Regions from separate parts of the Homo sapiens genome. Here region 2 is linked to region 1. The links come from fine-mapping of genetic effects on gene expression. A gene starts in region 1. The other region holds a variant in brackets. All regions are shown on one strand. Distances are from middle to middle.

Region 1 (8,336 bases):
GCTCAGATTAAGCAGCCCTGGTCTACATGATCATGCAGTTGGATTATTCTACTAGTCTGTATGTCTAACTCTTGTCTCTTCCTCCCTTTCCAACAGCACCAGATAAATATTCCCAAAGTGGTGCTTTTATTACATAATTCCTCTGCTCAAAAACTCTTCTGCTCATATAATGGTTATTCATTACCAATGCACATTAAATCTAAATTTCTCATTGAGTAGCCAAAATATGTTACTCTTTGAATCCATGTTAGATGCTGTCCCTGAACATTTTATCCCCAGCCAAGAGTACTCCTTCACCATCTAATGATCTCTAAAACAGTATCATGTATATAGTACCCAATTGCTATATTGCTTATTAAATTAATTTTCGAAAGGCTTATTTACAACTTCATCCAACACTTCTGTGAAGTCTTACCCCTAGGAATAATTGCTAAATCTATATAAAATCTCTTTGCTTCTTTTTTAAAAACCAATTTCACCAGGTGACTTTTATAAATATTCAAAAAGCTCTCACTGAAGTCACTTAGGCTAGTGTGTCTTTCCAAATAGTTACCATTAAAAATAAAAGAACTGACAGAAATTCTGCCTCATATGTGAGACTTTTGTAAGGACTCAAATATAAAGTAATACTCTTCTGAGAGGTAGTAATTTGAGACGGAGTTTTAATTTAGGCATATATGGTATATCGGACTGGCCATTCTACATTAAAACTTTAAAGAAAAAAAAATGCAGAAAACAGTTCTTCATATTTTCTGTGAACTTTTTCCTATGCCTAGTAATACCATCAACTCTGAGGCATTCCAAGAAAGAACAATTTTCCAACTTACTCTCATTGCTTTCCAAATACACGCAATCTGTCATCATAGTTTTTTTTTTAATAAAGACAGTATCTTATATATCTGTCCTATTTTTATTCTCTTCCTAATTCTTTCCCATTTGCAGCACTATCCCTGATCATTGATCTTTATCATTGTAGCCAAAGTTGCTTGTTCTTCTCACTGTTCCAAATCCATTCTTGAATGGCTTCTTATACTATACAACCAAAATTTTCACCTAGTCATATCCTAAAACTTTCTACCACTATCTCAAAAATCTAATGGACAATGCTGCTATGAAAAAGAAGCAAATTTGACATTTAAGCCTTAAAAATATCAAAGTGTATTACTGCTCAGAGTACTTTAAGGACAAACAGGAAACCTGATGGGTACTATCTAGAAACAGGCTACATATTCCTTTTCTTTTCCATGCTTTTATTTTTTATTTATTTATTTATTTTGAGATGGAGTCTCACTCTGTCGCCCAGGCTGGAGTGCAGCGGGACCATGTCGGCTCACTGCAAACTCCATCTCCTGGGTTCAGGCAATTCTCCTGCCTCAGCCTCCCAAGTAGCTGGGATTACAGGCGCCCACCACCACGCCTGGCTAATTTTTTATATTTTTAGTAGAGACAGGGTTTCACTGTGTTGGCCAGGCAGGTCTCGAACTCCTGACCTCAGGTGATCCACCCGCCTCAGCCTCCCAAAGTGCTGGGATTTCAGGTGTAAGCCACCACGCCCGGCCTTCCATGCTTTTATAAAGTCTGAAATTATTATTAAATGGTGGTTATAGTCTATCAATGCAACTAGTTTATCACTTTAGAAGACTTCTGGGGCCAGAGAAGGCAAAAAAAAAAAAATCATTAACTATTAAAACAAAATTATAAGAATATGCAACAGAAATTAAATAACTTGAGTAATCTGCTTATCTATTTAAGTTCATGTTAGGCCTTAAAAAATTATATATATATAATTACCTCATCTACAGCCAGAATAAAAAAAAATCTTAAAAGAAACTATACTGGTAAAAAGAATTTGGATGGAAATAGCTCTAGAAAAACTAATACAACTTACAGACAGGTAAATTTCATAAGATATAATCTTACGTTTTATTAATTCAAACACTAATAGCTGCTATATGTAAACAGCTGGAGAAAAAAACCAAACTAGAAGAAATGAGTATTTCATGCTGTTTAGAAAAATGAAATAAATATGAAAGTAGTGATATATTAAAATATTTACTGTTTGATACCTCAAGCCTTTTAAGGGCAATATGAAGGAATTTCTAAAAATCAGTTTGCTTTATAACTTCAAAATAAAGTCCATGACTCAATGACAGCAGTTGATAGAGGTCAATTCTGATCAAGTTAAAGATCATATAGTGGGATGAAGTCTCCCAGACCTGGTCCATTACCAAGGCACAAAAGATACAGTTTCTCCAGATGTCAGGGGGGAAAATGACTTGGCACCGCATCACACACTTAAAATCCAATAGGGTTCCTTTAATGCAACACAGCACTGTGCGTCAAAGCATACCCTGGTGTAAAGGCAGTGAAATGGACAGAAACACCATTATTTGTGTTTCATTTCCTGAATGCCTTATAAACATGCACAACAAAATGCTCCTGATCCCCATCAGAGAGGATGAAAACAACCCAAATGTGCCCTTTCCACCTCCTCCCCTGGTATTGGTGCTTGCGCCTCAGCACTGAGGCTTGGAGTTGTCTTCTCAAACCATCATTGTCCGGTGGGAAATTCACCGAGAAAGGAAACGTGGGATAGGAAGTCTGTTACCAAAATAGAAATTAGTATTAAAAAGACCGATCCTACGCTCCCTCCACCCTCTCATACAAGACAAAATAAAAAAAACCTCCGTAAACTTGCCCTACCGTCACGAAGATCACACAAGCTCCGATCAAATGTGCTTCTCGATCATCTTTTAGGCAAGAGAGCGCTTGGGGTGCATTTTCGGCCCCTCATCTCCCACCCCCAGTCAAGCCAGGCCCCTGGACTGACAGGAAAGGCTGGCCGGACGTTGGCTCGGACGGGAAAGGCGGTTATTTTCGCCGAAGCCGCTCACGCTAAGGGTGAAGTAATGTAGGGCCAGAGGTAACACGGCTTAGGCTGTGGGCAAGGCCTCCGAACTGACTAAAGATAGGCAGGACACGGCAGCAGGGGAGGCGGGAGAAGCAGCCGGGCCTAGGCCGCACCAGGCCGCGGAGTGGCCCTACGCTGCTGCTTCCCGACCGAGGCTGCCAGCCAAGCCCCAGAGAAGAAGGTTATCATTACCTGGACGGGTTCCTGCAGCACCGTCATCCTCGAGGCTCAGGCCCACTTTCTGCAGTGCCTCAGGCCCCCCCTGTAGCGGCTCCGGCCCGGCCAGCCCCTGCTCATTTAAACTCACCAGCGACCGTTACCGGGGGATGGGGGAGGCCGAGCGATTGCCGAGTGCTTCCGAGCGGGACACGGGAATACCCGAAGTGGAGAAAGCCGAGCGGGAACCAGACGGAAAAGCCCGAAGGGAGTCGGAAATACCCGAGGTTGGTCGACGAGAGAGAAAACCGTTGCCGGAAATTGTCGAAGATTACCGGAAGCTACCGAGTCTGACCCAAAGCGTAGGTTTCTCTTCTCAGCCACGCCTTCAGCCACGCACACCACGCCCAATCGGCCGTCCCAGGGTTGGGCTACGCCAAATCTGCAACCAGCAGGCTGGGCGTGGCGTGACAGCGCGGGCGGGTAGCGTTACGTGGCGGGGCTGCAGTGTGGATTAGCCCCTCAGCCCTTTTGGATTAATTGGTGTGCTGTAGATTATGAAGCAAAGGGTGAAACAGCAGAGTTTGGGGCTGTCTTTAATGAATCAACAAGTATTTGTCTATTGAGTTTAGATCATTCGTCCATTCCAGAAGTATCTACTCACGGCTCTGGGGGAAAGCTAAAGAAATTTGGAAAGATTGCCACTCCCCAAAGACATAGGATAGCTTCTGTCTTCAAGGAGATTAAGGTCTATTTAAGGGAAAAGCAGTGTAACAGAGAACGCTATATTATATGGTGCCTATTATAAGTAATATAAAAATTCAGAGAGGGCAATTGTGATAAGATAAGGAAAGTTCTATGGAAGGAAAAAAAAGTTTAAAATGGAGTTTGAAGGATGGGTAAAATTAGAGGAAAAAGAAGTATAGGAAAGTGAAGGGAGGAAAAATGGGATCAGTCTGCTAAGAAGGCATTAATTGGAAATAGTTACTTAGGTGAAGAGATCATGGAAAAGCTCAATAGGCCATTAGAAATTTTTATTTTTGATAGGTGAGGCATTCCGCTGTGGTGGGAAGAGTAGGGGGTCGGAAATTCAGAGGCCTGGTTTTGAATTTTATCTTTAGCACTAACTAGTCATAGGTCCTTGGCAAATTACCTCTCTGAACTTATGTTCGCTTAGTTTGAAAAAAAAGGATTAAGAGAATTCGATGTATTATAAATGTGGCCGTGTCTAGCATGCAATGTAGACTCTCTCATATTTCCTTTCTGCTCCCCTTCTCCCCCCAAAAAGAGTGAACCAGGGGACTGTTTAAATTTTGTTTTTCAGCAGATGAGGAAACAGTTTTTGAAAGTTACTTTTCTAGTCAGGAGCTCTCTAGGCTAGATGTGAGAATCATGATATATTCCATTGCTTGGAAATTTCCCTTTGGGTGATGTTAGAGGGAGATATTTTTTCTTTCATTTTTAAAAACAAGGCTGACAGAGCTACACTGCATCCTTCTCCACCGCCTTGTCTTGTCACTGTATATATACTTATAGCCCCTAAAGGGCAGGTGCTAAGATGATTTTTGGCTGCCCTGTGCCCAGTTGCTTTAGCGGGATTATGCTGGATGACTTGAGTGGTAACAGACTTTTACACTGGCCTGGAAAGTAGCCATTAGCTATTTAAAGTTTAAGTTAAAATGAAATTAAAAATGAAGTTCTTCAGATGCCCTAGCCACATTCCAAGGATTCAGTAGCCCTGTATGTGGCTAGTGACTGCCATATTGGACAGTCACACAGATATAGAAGAACATCACCAGCACTGGCTTGGCTAGGGCTGAAAGATTCAAGATGGCTTCACTCACATGTCTAGGGTGTCAGTGGTAGCTATTGGCTGGGTCCTTCATTTCTTCTCTGCATGACCTCTCTTTTCACACTGGCCTCTTATGAGTCAGTAGTTTAGCTCCAGCTTCTTGACTTGGTGGTTGACAACAAAGTGCGCAAAAATAGAAGCTGTGAGGTCCCTTAGGCCTAGGCCTGTGAGCATCACTTCTTGTTGGTCAGAGTAAGACTCAGAGCCACCCTGGATTCACCAGGAGGAATAGTCTACTTCTTAATGGGAAGAGTGGCAAAGTAACACCACAAAGGGCGTGTGCCATGGGAGGAGTTTTTGGGTCATCTTTGGAAACAATCTACCACGCTAGATATGAGATGAGAGTATCTAAGATTGGGAATGGAAAGAAAGGGATAAGTAAGAGCTATCACTCTTAAAATGTGACCCTTTCAACTGAACACAGTACTCCAGATTTATTCTGAATAATTCAGAATGCAGTTGGACTATTATTATCTGGACACGTCTATTAAAGTGGACTACAGTTGTATTTACATTTTTTTTTTCCGAGACTGAGTCTTGCTCTGTTGCCCAGAGCTGGAGTGTAATGGCGCAATCTCGGCTGACTGCGTCCTCCGCCTCCGGGGTTCAAGCAATTCTCCTGTCTCAACGTCCCGAGTAGCTGGGATTGCAGGTGCGCACCACCACGCCCGGTTAATTTTTGTATTTTTAGTAGAGACGGGGTTTCACCATGTTGGCCAGGCTGGTCTCAAACTCCTGATCTCATGATCCACCCATCTCGGCCTCCCAAAGTGCTGGGATTACAGGTGTGAGCCACTGTGCCCAGCCTGTATTTACATTTTTTAGCAGTCACATGACACTGTTTGCTCATGCTAAACTTGTGTGGTCATTTACGGACTCAGCTCTTTTTCACACAACATGCTGCCAACCCAAGTCTTGTATGTGTGCAGCAGAGTTTTGTAAACCTAAATATAGGACCTTACCACAGAGGATACATAAAGATGATACTTTGTGAAAATATGGATCTAGAGTCAGCATTTAAAGAGCCTCTGATGCTTGGCACTCTGGCTTATAGGCTTAGAATTTGCCTAAAGCCTTTTTTCTTTTTTTAACCTAAAAAAGAGCATTTCCTGGCTGGGTGAGGTGGCTCACGCCTGTAATCCCAACACTTTGGGAGGCCAATGCAGACGGATCACCTGAGGTCAGGCGTTCCAGACCAGCCTGACCAACATGGAGAAAACCTGTCTCTACTAAAAATACCAAATTAGCTGGGCGTGGTGGCACATGCCTGTAATCCCAGCTACTTGGGAGGCTGAGGCAGGAGAATCGCTTGAACCTGGGAGGTGGAGGTTGCGGTGAGCTGAGATTGCGCCATTGTTCTCCAGCCTGGGCAACAAGAGCAAAACTCCGTCTCAAAAAAAAAAAAAGGCCAGGCGCGTTGGCTCACGCCTGTAATCCCAGCACTTTAGGAGGCCAAGGCGGGCAGATCACAAGGTCAGGAGATCGAGACCATCCTGGCTAACACAGTGAAACCCCATCTCTACTAAAAATACAAAAAATTGGCCGGGCGTGGTGGTGGGCACCTGTGGTCCCCAGCTGCTGGGGAGGCTGAGGCAGGAGAATGGCGTGAATCTGGGAGGCGGAGCTTGCGGTGAGCTGAGATCGGGCCACTGCACTCCAGCCTGGGTGACAGTGCAAGACTGTGTCTCAAAAAAAAAAAAGCATCTCCTTTCTGATTGTTGTTGACCAGGCTAATACATCTGTTGTGGTTTCTACTCATCCACAGCAAAGCCACATTGTTTGAAGTACTTTGATGGGGTATTTTGGAGTGTTTTTACTTCCTTCTCTGCTCCTAATTGACCTACTTAAACTCGCTATTCATCAACCACTTGGGCATCCTGCTGTCATCCGTTATCCAATATGTTTGGCTAGTGAGTGGAGTTGGGTTACAACAGCATTATTCCAAAAATGGAATTGGAAAATTATTTTTTCTCCTAAGCCTGCTTCTTGGTCTATTTCATATTCAGTCAGATTTGGAGGCTGGCATTTAGGGAACTATTCAAAAAGCTAGACGTGATATCAGTAGCAAAATGTAGGTCCCACTGAAACATAGCCCAGAGTAAGTGTACTCTCCTGAAGTCTTTCAGTCCTCCTTGTCTGTACCCTTCATTTTGTCCCTGTTGCGTGCGGTTTTATGGCCTCCTTACCTGACCTTGCACCCCACCACCCCCACCCCACCCTCACCATGTTTACTCTTTGGTCAAATCATCCTCTTCTTTTGGCTTCTCTAATGACACCATCTCCTAGCTTTCCTCCTACTGCTCTGTTTTTGTTTGTTTGTTTGTTTGAGAGAGTCTCGCTCTGTCACCCAGGCTGGAGTGCAATGGCGCTATCTCGGCTCACTGCAGCCTCCGTCTCCTGGGTTCAAGCGATTCTCCTGCCTCAGCCCCCTGAGTAGCTGAATTTACAGGTGTGCGCCACCACACCCAGCTAATTTTTGTATTTTCAGTAGAGACGGAGTTTCGCCATGTTGGCTGGGCTGGTCTCGAACTCTTGACCTCAAGTGATCTGCCTGCCTCAGCCTTCCAAAATGCTGGGATTACAGGCATGAGCCACTGCGCCTGGCCTACTGCTCTGTTTTTTAATCGGTTTCCTTTGCAGCTCCTCTGCCAGCCCCTTTAATATTAAGCATGCTTCAAGGACCTGTTCTAGGCCTTCTTCTCACCCACCCTACACATTCTTCTTAGGCAAAACTATCCTTTCTTTCTTTCTTTCCTTCCTTCCTTCCTTCCTTTCTTTCTTTCTTCCTTTTTCTTTCTCTTTCCTTTCTTTTGAGACAGAGTCTCACTCTGTCACCCAGGCTGGAGTGCAGTGGTGTGATCTCAGCCCGCTGCAACCTCCACCTCCCAGGTTCAAGCGATTCTCCTGCCTCAGCCTCCCGAGTAGCTGGGACCACAGGCACACGCCACCATGCCAGGCTAATTTTTGCATTTTTAGTAGAGATGGGGTTTCGCCATGTTGGCCAGGCTGGTCTCCTGACCTTAGGTGATCCACCCACCTTGGCCTCCCAAAGTGCTGGGATTACAGGCGTAAGCCACCATACCCCGCCCCTATCCATTCTTGTGGCCCCAGTTTCTCATCTACAAATGGTTTGAAAAATTTGTATCTCCAGCCAGACTACTTTTTAGAGCTCCAGGCCCAAATGACTAACTGCCAAGAGGACACCTTTATCTGGATGTCTCATAGGTACTTTGTTCGGAATGGAACCCCTCATTGTCTTAAAATATTTCCTATCCCAGTTTAAGATATCACCATCTTTTCCATTGCCCAAAAGATTAGATAAGGGTTAGTTTAACAAGGTTTGTACAGATTTATTCCCAGCCTCAGCTCTGTCTCTGGTGATAAGAATGGCTTTCTCCTGGTACAAGGAGGGCATCT
Region 2 (8,336 bases), 41 kb before region 1:
TTTCAGATAACTACAAACTGAACCAAATATATGGAACAATGGTTTTCAGACACTGGACAATAGGCAAAACATTTCCGAGGACAGTTCTAGGGCCACCTTGCAGGAAAAAAGAATGCAAAATAGAGCTCAGTGGTCCCACTGTGTTGAAAAGAAAATGTTGAGAATTTGAGAAAGCCAAAGCAGCCAGAATTTGCAAGGCAGAGCACCAGAGAGAAGAGAGCTACAAAGAGGAGACCTACAAAGATCTGCAGAGGGCTTCCCTAGAGTCTTCAGTTGAAAATTGATCAGTGTAGGTGTTTGAGTGTTATATAATAAAGAATTTGTCTGGTCCACGTCCCAGGCTCCTGAGATCTACTAAGTCCTTGGAATTCCTCAAGTGACAGGGATGTCTTTGTTATTCATTATGAGCTCCTGGGACCGTGCCTGAATTTATGCTAATGAAGTAACTCCTAGATACTTTCTGGATGGGTGCTGGCTGTGCTGTAAAGGTCAACCATGTGGCCGGGCATGGTGGCTCACACATGTAATCCCAGCACTTTGGCAGGCCAAGGCAGGCGGATCACGAGGTCAAGAGATCGAGATCATCCTGGCCAACATGGTGGAACCCCATCTCTACTAAAAATACAAAAATTAGCTGGGCATGATGGCGGGTGCCTGTAATCCCAGCCACTCGCGGGTTCAAGTGTAATCACTTGAACCCGGGAGGTGGAGGTTGCAGTGAGCCAAGATCGTGCCATTGCATTGCAGCCTGGGCGACAACAGCGAAACTCTGTCTCAAAAAAAAAAAAGTCAACCATGTGATTAGAGGGCTGGGGCTTTGAGCCAGCAACACCAGCCTGAGCTCCTCTGGGAAGGAAATTGAGTTCAATCATGTGGCCAATGATTCCATCAATCACACCTACATAATTTAAAAACCCTAATAAAAATTTTGAACACCAAAACTTGGCTCAAATTCCTGGTTTGTAAACATACTGATGCATTGGGAGGGTGAGCCCAGAAAGAAGACATGAAAGCTCTGTATCAGGACCCTCCCATATCTAATCCTATGGATCTCCTAATTATGTCATCTACAATAAAACTGTAATCATTAAGTATAGCACTTTCCTGGACTCTGTGAGGTGCTCTAGCAAATTACTGAATGTAAGAGGGTAGTAGGAATCCTTAAATTTGTAGCCAGTTGGTCAGAAATGTGGGTGGCCTGGGGAACCCAGAACCTACAACTGGGCAGTTCAGACAGTTCTTGTTGGGGACTGTGATCTTAACCTGTGGTGTCTGTGCTAAGTTTGGGTAGTTAGCATCAGAATTACATTATAGTACTATAGTGAAGAAACTACCCAAAGCTGGGGAAAGTATTACTGAAAAGAAGCAGACAGAATAATTACTGGATCTCACTCCAAGCTGGGAATAGCTCATACTTTCAATAGGCAGAGTGAAGAAACCTCATACTAAACAGGTTTTTGAGGAGAGTACTCAAAGGGTACTTCCTCAATGGTGGGACAAGATTAGTCCAGACTAAGGCTACTTTTGTCTGGACAAAATTTAAAAGGTAAGACCTGAAGGGATCAAGCTGTTTCCAAGCAACTTTACTGCATCTCAGAATAAAACTTTAAAATACCTAAAGGAATGCAAAAATATCCAGTAATCAACAATGTAAAATTTATAGCCAGGCACAGTGGCTCACACCTGTAATCCCAACAACTCGGGTGGGTGAGGTGGGAGGATTGCTTGAGGCCAGGAGTTTGAGAACAGCCTGAGCAACACAGCAAGACCCCATCTCTGCAAAACTAAAAAAAAATTAGCCATATGTGGCACGTGCCTATAGTTCCAGCTACCCAGGAGCCTGAAGTGGGAGGACTTCTTGAGCCCAGGAGTTTGAGGCTGCACTGAGCTATAATCACACCACTGTACTCTAGCCTGGGCATCAGAGTAAAAGACCCTGTCTCAAAGAAAAAAAGTAAAATTTATAATAACTGACATCCAATTAAAAAACACTAGGCAGCCGGGCGCGGTGGCTCACGCCTGTAATCCCAGCACTTTGGGAGGCCGAGACGGGCGGATCACGAGGTCAGGAGATCGAGACCATCCTGGCTAACACGGTGAAACCCCGTCTCTACTAAAAATACAAAAATTAGCTGGGCATGGTGGCGCGCGCCTGTAGTCCCAGCTACACGGGAGGCTGAGGCAGGAGAATGGCGTGAACCCGGGAGGCGGAGCTTGCAGTGAGTCGAGATCGCGCCACTGCACTCCAGCCTGGGCGACAGAGCGAAACTCCGTCTCAAAAACAAACAAACAAACAAACAAACAAACAAAAAAAAAAACACTAGGCATAGAAAACAGCAGGAAAATATAATCTACAATGAAGAGGAAAAGTAATATAAGAAACACTTAGAAATAACAAAGTAACAGACTTAGTAGGCAAAAACATTAAAAAAATACAAATACATCCTATACGTTCAAAAACATAGAAGAGACTGGATGAGGTGGCTCATGCCTGTCGGCCCAGCACTTTGGGAGGCCAAGCCAGGACTGCTTCAGGCCCGGAGGTCAAGATCTGCCTGGACAACATAGCAAGACCTTGTCTCATAGAGACCTTGTCCTTGTCTCTACAAAAAAATAAAAAATAAAAATAATCAGCCACATGTGGTGGCATGTGCCTGTAGTCCCAGCTACTCAGGAGGCTAACGCAAGAGAATCGCTTGAGCCAAGGAGTTTGAGGCTACAGTGAGCCATAGTAGCATCACTGCACTCCAGCCTGGGTGACAGTGAGACCCTGTCTCAAAAAAAAAAAAAAAAAAAAGGCTGGGCGCGGTGGCTCACACCTGTAATCCCAGCACTTTCGGAGGCCAAGGTGGGCGGATCACGAGTCAGGAGTTTGAGATCAGCCTGACCAACATGGTGAAACCCCATCTCTACTAAAAATACAAAAATTAGCAGGGCGCAGTGGCACATGCCTGTAATCCCAGCTACTCAGGAGGCTGAGGCAGGAGAATCGCTTGAACCCAGGAGGGGCGGAGGGTGCAGTGAGCCAGATTGTGCCACTGCACTCCAGCCTGGGCAACAGAGCGAGACTCTATCTCAAAAAAAAAAAAAAAGAAAGAAAGAAAACCAAATCAATCTAGAGATGAAAGACAAATGTCTGCAATAAAAAAACAAAACAAAACAAAAAACCCAACAACACTGGGTGTGGTTAATAACAGGTCTGACACTGCTGAAGAAACATTAATTTGAAGACATAGCAATAAACACTATCCAAAATGAAACACGGAGAGGAGAAAGATTGGAAACAAAAATGAAGAATTAGTGAGCTGTGGGGCAACTTCAAGCAATCTAATATACAAGTACCTGGAGTCCCAGAGGGAGAGGGTAAGACATGGACATAATATTTGAAGAAATAATGCCCCCAATTTAGCCAACTATTATGAAAACTATAAACCCACAGATCCAAGAAGCTCAATAAATCCAAAGGCCGAGAAACAACAAAGCTACACTAGAGCACATCATAATCGAATTGCTTAAAATCAGCAATTAAAAACAAAACCTTGAAACAGAGAAAAGACATATTACTACATATAGAGGAACAAAAATGAGATTGACAGCAGATTTCTTGTCAGAAACAATATAAGCCAAAAAACCAGTAAAGCAACATCCCTAAAAAAATTGTCAATTAGAAATTCTTGGCCAGGCGTAGTGGCTCATGCCTGTAATCTCAGCACTTTGGGAGGCCAAGATGGGCGATCACCTGAGGTCAGGAATTCAAGACTAGCCTGGCCAACATGGTGAAAGCCAATCTCTACTAAAAATGCAAAAATTAGCTGAGCATGATAGCACATGCCTGTAATCCCAGCTACTCGGGAGGCCGTGGCAGGAGAATTGCTTGAACTCGGGAAGCAGAGGTTGCAGGGAGCCAAGATTGTGCCATTGCACTCCAGCCCAGGCAACAAGCAAGACTCTGTCTCAAAAAAAAAAAAAAAAAAAGAAAAAGAAAGAAATTCTTGCCTAGTAAAAATATTGTTCAAAAATAAAGATGAAATAAGAACTTTTTTTCTGATCCACAAAAGCTGAAAAAATTCATTACCAGCTGACTCGTACTATAAGAAATGATAAAAAGGCCAGGTGCGGTGGGGCTCATGACTGTAATCCCAGCACTTCGGGAGGCCAAGGCAGGAGGATCACAAGGTCAAGAGATCGGGACCATCCTGGCCAACATGGTGAAACCCCGTTTCTACTAAAAATACAAAAATTAGCTGGGTGTGGTGGTGCACACCTGTAGTCCCAGCTACTCGGGAGGCTGAGGCAGGAGAATCGCTTTAACCCAGGTGGCAGAAGTTGCAGTGAGCCGAGATCGTGCCACTGCACTTCAGCCTGGTGACAGAGTGAGACTCTGTCT[TA/T]AAAAAAAAAAAAAAAAAAAAGAAATGTTAAAAAGAAGTCCTTCAAGGTGGAGGAAAATGATATCAGATCGCAATCTGGATCTATAGAAGGAAAGGGCACCAGAAATTGTAGTTATGTGTGTAAATATAAAATAGACTTCTTTTTCTCATTTAAAAAAATTTCAGCTGGGCATGGTAGCTCATGCCTGTAATCCCAGCACTTTGGGAGGCTGAGGCGGGTGGATCATTTGAGGTCAGGAGTTTGACGCTAGCCTGGCCAACATCGTGAAACCCTGTCTCTACTAAAAATACAAAAATTAGCCGGGCGTGGTGGCACATGCCTGTAATCCCAGCTACATGGGAGGCTGAGGCAGTAGCATTGCTTGAACTGGGGAGGTGGAGGTTGCAGTGAGCCGAGATTGCACCATTGCACTACAGCCTGGGTAACAGAGCGAAACTCCGTCTAAAACAAAAACAAAAACAAAAACAAAACTCTATAAAAAGACAACTGACTGTTTAAGGCAGAAACCACAACCACAATAATGCACTGTGGGGTTTATAACATATATAGAAATTAAATATATTACAGCCATCCCTCCCATAAAGACTAAGAGAGGAGCACGAAAGTATACTATTGTAAGGTTCTGTGCTATACATGAAATTGTCTATTACTTGAAGGCAAACCTTGATAAGTTAAAATGTTTACTACAAACTCCAAACAACCTTTAAAAAGACAAAATAAAGAGCAATTGCTAATAAGGCAATATTGAATTGTACCTCCCCAAAAGATATGTTGAAGCCCTAAGCCCCAGTACATGTCAATGTGATTTTATTCAGAAATTTGGTTTTTGCAGATGTCATTGAGTTAAGCTGAGGATATCTGGGTTGACCCTAATCCAATATAACTGTTGTCTTTACAAGAGGGAAATTTAGATACAGAAACACACATGGAAGATGACCATGTGAAGACAGAGGAAGATACTGAGTTATACTGTCACATGCTAAAGAACACCTGGGGTTATCAGAAGCTGGAGGAGGCAAGGAAAAATCCTCCTCTAAAGATTTTGGAAGGGGAACAACCCTGCCAACACCTTGATTTTGGACTTATGGCTTTACAACTGTAAGAGAATAAGTATCTGTTGTTTTAAGACACTAAGTTGTGGTACTTTGTTATGGCAGCCCTAGAAAACTAATATAGGCAATTAAGGAGATAAAATGGAATCAACAATACAAAGAACACAAAATTATTAAGAGTGAATGTTGGCCAGGCACGGTGGCTCATGCCTGTAATCCCAGCACTTTGGGAGGCTGAGGCAGGCGGATCACCTGAGGTTGGGAGTTCGAGACCAGCCTGACCAACATGGAGAAACCCTGTCTTTACTAAAAATACAAAATTAGCTGGGTGTGGTGACACATGCCTATAATCCCAGCTACTCAGGAAGCTGAGGCAGGAGAATCACTTGAACCCGGGAGGCGGAGGTTGTGGTGGGCCGAGATCACACCACTGCACTCCAGCTTGGGCAACAAGAGTGAAACTCCATCTCCATAAAAAAAAGAGCTGATGTTTATTAGTGTTAGTCTATTTGTTTGACTCTAAAGTGAAATGTACAAATCGGAAATTATTTTTACATATAATGTTGCTTTGCAGGAGGTCTCAAGTTCCTTCTCACAACAGAGCCTCAGGCAATCACTGCAAGCTGGCACTCAAGAGGATTAGACTTACCATTCTGGGAGCATTACAGGAACATAGAGGTCTTTTAGATAGTCAAGGAGGTATATGCACACCTGTGTGTATGTCTGTTTTAAAATTTAGGTACATGTTCACAGTTTTAGAAAGGAGAAAGAAAATTGTATCTTCCTTTTAAAATGTTAGCTATAATCTATTGAGTCCTTGAAGAGGAAAAGAAAATCCTATCTAACACCATTTCTGTGTGGAAATAGATTCATTATTTGAAGTTTATTTGTCTGTTATTTTTATAATCTGTTTATAGACATGCATAATGTGGGGAAGGGGAGTATGAAACCTATCTGTACCTAAACTATAGAAAGGGTCATGTGCATAAGAAGAAAATTACAAATCCATGAGGCAATCAGAGTAAACTAAAATGCTGCTTTAGTTAACTATTGTCTTCTGTGCATTACAAAACTCAACTCAAAATTACATTAGTGTTGTAAGTTAGAGGTTTCAAATTTTACATCTTCAAAATTTACAGTAGTTATTCTAGAATCCACGAGAGTCACTATCTGCCTAAATTAAAGAAATGTAAAGAATCAAGTTTTATGCCAAGAAAAGTTGAATAATTACAATGATAAATACCTTGTTTGTGGACCAGAACTTTGTGTTTGTGCAAGAATTGGAGTTACCTCTCGGCTATTTCCACTCTGTGAGAAGACAGACTTTGTTCCAGTTTGGCCGATTCTGGCAACAGACTGTAAAACACGAAAAGTCTAAGGTTTGTGAATTATGGGCTGCACTGTAAATGATAAAAGACAACACAACGCTCCCATCTACATTTTCTCAATACAAGCAGCCATAATATACTGTCACCTTAAAGATAAACTATTTATATCATATTGTTAATTATTGTTGTATTAGTATGAACATCAGTCTATTTCCCTGTTTTAATCTCACAGTATTTTTACCTCTATAATGTCTTTTCATCTTTCGCTTTTTGTTTCAAAGACTAAAAATCCCCAGAAGCTATTCTTTTCATCTCATTGTGACCATCCTCCATTTATTACATACCTTCTCTATTTGGGGTTAAGTACTAAAAAATTTTAAGACAGCTAAATTCTCAAGATTTATGATTTATCTCATTATACACAGAAAAAAATAATAATACGATAAGATTTTATACTCCTTTGGCACTTGGTAACAGTTCTAAAGGAGTTCAGAGGAGTAGATTTTAAAAAAACAACCATCTGATTACTTTCCAAAACCTAAGGATATTGTTCTTTAGAGTTAATATTGCTTAGTTTTTCTAATCTTCATTAATTGGTTTCTGTTCCCTTGGAGAAAAAAAAATCTTTGCTTGGCTCTTCAGTCTTCTCTAATTTATTCCCTTATTTCTATTCATTTCCACCATCTAGCTTCTTTAAATGATCTATGACTATTGTATCAGTGCACTGTTTTTCCCCTTTGGCTACCAGAGAATTTTCTTCAAAACTTACTGTTACCCTGATGTCCTGTACACAATCCTCAAACTGCATATTATAAATAATCACTAATAATCACTGTCTCATCAGATATTAAAACCTTATTTTAGCCTTTCCTGCATTCAACATCACTGATCATGCCCTACTTTTTGAAACTTTGTGTTACTTCCAAAACATTACATTATTTGTCCTGCCACTTCATTTGCTGGCCCTTTATCCTTCTACTATTTTTAAATTAGGTTTACTCTGTTCTCCTTAGCTACTCTTTCTTTCCCTAGGAGAGCCTGGTCATTTTAATAGTTTCAATTATTATTTCTATCAGCAGGTCACATTTTTTCCTCTATGACTAACTTTCTACTGAATATTTTCATCTAATGTACCACCACTTCAAAATAAAACTTCATAAGCCTTCCTCCGCCTTTTCCAAATTGGGATCACTACATTCATCCAAGGGACAAAAGTCAACTCTGGCTTTTCCTTATTTATCAAAGAACTATGTACACTGCACTCAATACCTGGTTTGATATTTTCAGTTGACACTGCATGCAGACCTACATGCGTGACTTTTCTGGGAATGTCTTGTAATAAGGTAAGAGGAGAACAGAGGCAGAAGAGGATGAGAGAGCAATCTTATCTGGGCACTAAAATCATGTGCCTGCCCACTGTCTTAACTTGCTCTGGTTATTATGGTTATTATGGCTCTTCTAGTTTTGGCCTACTTCACCTGGCATGCTAACTACCATTTTGTTTTGCCTTCTTCATAACTGTAATGTTTAAAACAATCCATACACAAACTATTTTGCAGTCCCTTTT

Which allele goes with the higher level. Positions count from the first base shown, and alleles are read on the strand shown. Sizes are in standard deviations (SD) of each study's normalised expression.
As copies of TA replace T in region 2, the expression in non-classical monocytes of the gene that starts at base 3,253 in region 1 goes up (large effect, 1.1 SD a copy in Schmiedel 2018).

The links.
Region 2: its variant is fine-mapped to the expression of CDC27 in non-classical monocytes (Schmiedel 2018, PIP 0.95).

The regions. Positions count from the first base shown.
Region 1 is chr17:47,186,043-47,194,378 of GRCh38, forward strand. It overlaps CDC27 (cell division cycle 27), which reads right to left and starts at 3,253. Exons shown (of 19, transcript NM_001256.6): 1 at 3,104-3,253. The coding sequence starts at 3,130. It also overlaps a transcript of MYL4 not described here. RefSeq lists a silencer at 2,778-2,827 and enhancers at 2,861-3,457, 2,988-3,177.
Region 2 is chr17:47,145,122-47,153,457 of GRCh38, forward strand. It overlaps CDC27 (cell division cycle 27), which reads right to left. Exons shown (of 19, transcript NM_001256.6): 9 at 6,685-6,797. Among named protein-coding and RNA genes, the nearest start is that of CDC27, 40 kb to the right of the region's middle. The variant TA/T (reference allele first, on the strand shown) is at 4,388.